2 separate regions of the Homo sapiens genome follow, and region 2 is linked to region 1. Evidence: fine-mapped expression QTL. Tissue or cell type: whole blood. Region 1 holds a variant in brackets; the other region holds the start of a gene. All regions are shown on one strand. Distances are between the middles of the regions.

Region 1 (2,609 bases):
TACCTTTTAAAGGTTTTAATGTTGTGCTTTAAAAAGAACTGTGTATGATTCCGGAGTATGTAAGAGAAATATAAAATGTGTGAAGTGTTGTGTTCTTTATCTTTCAGTTTATTTAAAAAAATATAGTTAAATGACCCAATCATTTATATTTTCTGTATTAATTTTATAGGATTTAAAATTAATACATTTCCACTTTCATTTAAGTGTTTTTACATTATTTCTGGGAAAATAAAAATTAAGGGAGATTTTAAAGGTTCTCACAAAAAAACAGACAGAGCTTTCAAGAATCGCAGGGCAATGAATCACGGATCACAAAATTGTAAGTTAGTTTAAAAAAAAAAAAAAAAAAAAAACACATTATGGGGGCCAAGAAGGTACAGGAATTTCCTATAAGATAGGCTAGGAAAACCCATGCCTTGACTTTGACTGGCATTTGGGCTGGAGTTCACACCTGCCTAAAGCACTTGGTTTAAAACTAGACTAAATCAGTCTAGCACTTCAGAGGTTTGCCAAACACCAAATATTTTGATTTCTAACCCTAAAAATATAACTCTTGAATACAAACATCAATGGCAAAGAGAAAGATGAAAGGTAAAAACCTAAGCACACAGGGGATGGAGCACCATAATGAGGTGACAAGGCAGCTATCGGGTGGGAAGACAATTTCTAAATCTCCTACAATGTGCTAGATGCATACGGACCAATAGCCAACTGAAGGGACCCCAAAAACTGTTTTCTGTTCTCCCAGATTCGTCTTAACATAACCAAGTTCTAATTAACCGAGTTTGTTTTATGAATGTATGACACTGATTCAGACCTATGTGGTGTCTGGGCACGGTGGCTCACGCCTGTAAACCCAGCACTATGGAAGGCCGAGGCAGGTGGATCACGAGGTCAGGGTTCAAGACCAGCCTGGCCAAGATGGTGAAACCCCATCTCTATTAAAAATACAAAAAATTAGCCGGGCGTGGTGGTGGGCGCCTGTAATCCCAGCTACTCGAGAGGCTGAGGCAGATAATTGCTTGAACCCAGGAAGCAGAGGTTGCAGTGAGCTGCAGAGGTTGCAGTGATCACACCACTGCAGTCCAGCCTGGGCAACAGAGCAAGACTCCGTCTTAAGAAAAAAAAACAACAAAAA[A/C]AAACAAACAAACAAAAAACCTGTGGAAGACTTAGTGATGTTCCAAATAAGGCCTCAGACTTTCCTTATCCACTTAAAACACATCTTTACCTTTTAATCAAAGCCAACTTGAGTGTTAAGTTTTTAAAGTTTGCTAACTGTAACTGAGAAATAACAGATCAGCCTGAACTTGCCGAGTGTGAAGTCATAATTAGCACCCGTTCTCTGGTCCACAGAGCCATCACTTCTTTTCCATCCCCCTCACTAGGTAAGACAGAGTTCCCTCTCAGGCTTCTCAAAGAGAACTGTGGGAGTCATGTCTGGATACTCATTTGCTTTTCAGAAAAACATAAAGACATGGAGGTGAAATTGTATGAAAACATTCTACCTAGAAACATCTTAACCTCTATGTTTCAATTACCAAAGATATTTAAAAGAAAATATCTTTACTCTTTAAAAATACTAGTGTCCTTATTTTCCTTCTAATTCTTCACCTGAGTAGTCTCTCTGAAGAGCATGACTTACAAAATGCTCTCTCATGCATCCCTGGATCTTTCATGTTATTGTAAATTTAATACTTTTCATTATAGATTTTAAACAACTACTACTTGGGGTTGTGTGTATAAATATGTAAAATAAGCAATACACACAGGTACATGATATATATGTGTATATATATAATTCAGGGTACATTTACATACATAAAGTTGCAAAAGATCCTATAAGCCATGAGTTACCTCTAGGAGATTCCAAAATGCAGTCCTCAGTAAGTGTCATTTGTAGCACACAACCATTCCAAGATGAAGCCGCACAGACAGAATAATCAAAATACAACATGAGCAAGCACAGTTTTTCAATAAGGTTTTCTAAAAGTTTGCTACGCTGACAAAAGATGTAAATAATCCAAAGAAAGCCAAAAGAAGTATATTTGAAAAGTAAACACGAACCCAGCCACTGCTCTTTACTCAGCAAAGCCAGGGACGCAACAGCTCAAATGGAAACTTTCACTGTCAAGTGGTCTGAAAATATTAAGCAAGACAAGTAAATGACTTCCATGTTATGATAATTAGACCTGACTGTAAAATCTCCCATTTATATTAGTAGATGTCTCTGACAATTTTATTGTGAGAAATGTATGGGGAAAAAAATGAGTCAACATGAATACTTTCAGAGTTACCAATATAAAGTTACCTTAAGTTAATGGTCTTAGAAGAGTACCATCAAGGTAAGCAAGGTAAATATTTAAATAAATATAAAATTCTAAGATATAAAACTTCGGTATAGAATCAGGGATTACTTTATTAAAAGTAACTAGCATGTTGCCAGTTTTCCCTATTTATTAAACAAACTGAATAGAATTCAGAACACACTACTGAGCAAAATGTATATTTAAAAAAAAGTCAACTAGAAGTAATAATTCTATTTGTACACAGCATAAATCAATATACAGTATTGTATGTGAATGAGACTGATTGGCTTTAAAATGAATTTT
Region 2 (2,704 bases), 63 kb after region 1:
CGCTCTCGTGTTGTGCAATTTTTTTCCCTATAGGACAAAAGAATGGCAAAAACTTTCCCATCAATCTTTATTTTTCTTCCTTTATTCAGATACTCGGGGCGGCAAAGATTGTTGGAAAAACAACTGCATCGAAAGCACCTTAGCAGCCACATATGATTTGACTTAAGCAAAAATAACATTTCCTGGGGTCCCGTATGCCCTGGTAAGCCCAGGTGTCCGGAATGCCACCTGCCCCGACTGCCCTCGGGTGGCTACAGGCGCGGGGGAAGGCGCAGGGCCAGGGGCGCTGAGGGTGAAACGGTCCCGGCGTCCGGGCGGCGGCGGTGGCCGCCTGCGGCAGCTCAGCTGAAACGCAGCGGAAACTGCAGCCAGTCACGGGGCTGCGGGAGGCAAGGCAGGAAGGTGGCGCTGCCGCCGAGCGCCTGGAGCCCGAGCGCTCATCATGGCGGCAAGGGCAATGGCCGCCACGGGGAGCGAGCACGCCCCTCCGCGCGCACACGCCGCCGCGCCGGGCCTCCGGGGCCCGTCACCGGCGCCGCTGCCGCCGCCGCCCGCTCTCCCACCCCCCCTCACGGGCTGTAGCGGAATTTTCTCTCCAGACACCGCCTCCAAGATGGCGGCTCCCCCTCCCGGCAACCCCCTCTATCGTCCCCTGCAGCAGGCGCCGAGCCGCCGCCATCTTGTCCCCCGTCCCTCCCCCCCCCTCACCGATATTTACATAGCGAAAATCGGCCCGGCCGGCCTGCGGCCTTCACCTCACGCCTGCAGCCTTCGCCTCCTCGCCAGGCCTCACCCCGGCGCGGTGCCCCAGGTCGGCCGCGGAGCCGACCCGGGGCCCCTCGACCGCCTCCGGCACAACCGGGCGACCCTCCCCCAACCCCCGCCCGCTTACGGAGCGCGCCTCCGCCGCCGCTCGGGGCAGCCGGGCTCCTCCCCGGGCCTAACTGCGGCCTCCTCGGGGCCTGCTCGGCGCCGCGCGCCACGCCGCCCGGCCTAGCGCGGGAGGGCGCCTTGCGGGCCGCCGACCAGGCCGAGACCAGGCCGCTGTGCGCGCACTAGGCCCCGCGGCCGCGGCGGCACCCGGGACTCACCGGACGGACGTGCGGGCGGCCGGCGACGGTGGCGGGTGCTGCAGGCCGGCCTTTCTCTGGAGCACTGGGCCGGGCTCCGGCTGGTGGGGCGGGCGGAGGGAGGGAGGAGGGGCCGAGCTCGGAGCTGACAAAAAGCGGCCCAGCTCCCCGGCACGGGCCCGCCGTCAGCACGTCACGTCACCGCCCGGGAGAGAGACCCAGGAAAATGCGGAAGGGTAGACAGGCCCCCTCCTCCGCCCGGTGGGTCCTCCTGGCACCCCGTGTCGGCGCCGCTCCCGCCCCGCGACCGGGGAGCCCAGTGGCCTCGCTGCGGCGGGGTCTCCGGCGGCCGGAGTCTCCGTGACAGCGCCCCCCTTCTTTCCACCTCCTCCGCGCTCCCGCCCGCCGCCGCCACACACGCGCCGCTGCCGCCGCCGCCTCGGCCGTAAAGCCCGCGCGGGGCCGCGGTCGGCCGACCCCGCGGAGAGGCAGGCGGCCCGGCCGCCCCCCACCATGTCCCGTGGGCCGCGGCCGCCCCCCGGGGGCCTCCCTGGAGACCTACCGCCTCTCGCGCCGGTCCTGGCCGAGGCTCCAGCTCGAGTTGTTTGCAGGCCCTCAGACCCCCGCCCGCAGTAAATGTGTTTTCTTCATCCCCGTGGCTGGGGAGGAAGATAAATTTAGCAACCCCCGCCGTCCCCTGCCTTCGCTTAAAAAAAAAAAATCTTTGAAATAAAATGAAAACGGGCTTGCCAGTCTAAATGGGTGTGCGGGAAGGGGGGTGGAGTGGGGGGAGAAGGGTTATCCCTAGAGCACCTACCAGGCCGTCTACTTTTTAAAAATAAGCAGTCAGAGCCAAACTGATTTTATTAGTTTGTACGGGGGAGGGAGATGAGCAAAGTTGCATTTTGAAACGTTTCGCACGTTGCAAAGAACAGGAATTTTCTGTGTATTTTCCTATGTACCCGTGTTTCAGAGCTTGGGAGCCTGTGAAATGTAAGACTGGTGTCATCGTTTCATAAATCATGAATTTTCCACATTCCTTAATAGAGAGGAGCCCAATTGGGTATGGATTTTTTTTTTTTTAAACACACTGCTTAAACAAGCCTTTTGAAGTTTCAAAAGACTTGGGAGAGAAGGGGAAAATGATTAAACAGCACTTACCAACTTCAAAAATGTGTATTTCGCACTTTACTTAGTTTAAATGTTTATGCTATCTTTCCATGCTGAACTTGGAACCCAAACTCTGTTTTAAAGTTACTAGGGAAAAGTTAAATAGTGGAGTCTTTACATTAATCTGGAATCTGGCATGCTATCCTTTAACACAGCACTAAATGTTAAAGGCATTTTTAAACAATAAGAAACACAAAAATTATAAAGCAAATAGTATACTGGTGTGAAATCTCTTTAAATACAGAGGCCACGTATTTTAGTTGCCTGACATAACTCTTTAAAACTCCCAGAATGCAATTTGTCCCTTCCCTCAGACATCTCTCAATCACAAATGCTTTCAAAAAGGAAAAACAAAAGTAGAGTAAGAAGAAATCTCTGAGCATGCACTGGATGATAATTTTCCTCTCGGGGCTTTAGTCTGAATTTTTCCAAGCGATTAAATTTCCTTTCAAAAATAGTAACAG

Evidence for each region. PIP is the estimated chance that this variant, and not a neighbour inherited with it, causes the effect.
Region 2: ZFX starts here. The variant in region 1 is fine-mapped to the expression of ZFX in whole blood (TOPMed, PIP above 0.99). The same link has a PIP of 0.9 or more in T cells, blood mononuclear cells, lung, monocytes and nasal epithelium.

Annotation. Positions count from the first base shown.
Region 1 is chrX:24,211,422-24,214,030 of GRCh38, reverse strand. ZFX (zinc finger protein X-linked) reads right to left here. Exons shown (of 10, transcript NM_003410.4): 10 at 1-2,609. Among named protein-coding and RNA genes, the nearest start is that of ZFX, 63 kb to the right of the region's middle. The variant A/C (reference allele first, on the strand shown) is at 1,139.
Region 2 is chrX:24,148,182-24,150,885 of GRCh38, reverse strand. ZFX (zinc finger protein X-linked) reads right to left here and starts at 1,157. Exons shown (of 10, transcript NM_003410.4): 1 at 1,092-1,157. It overlaps ZFX-AS1 (ZFX antisense RNA 1), which reads left to right and starts at 1,232. Exons shown (of 3, transcript NR_046657.1): 1 at 1,232-1,331; 2 at 2,044-2,133. RefSeq lists silencers at 151-660, 711-760, 781-1,190, 1,251-1,610 and enhancers at 701-1,514, 1,721-1,820.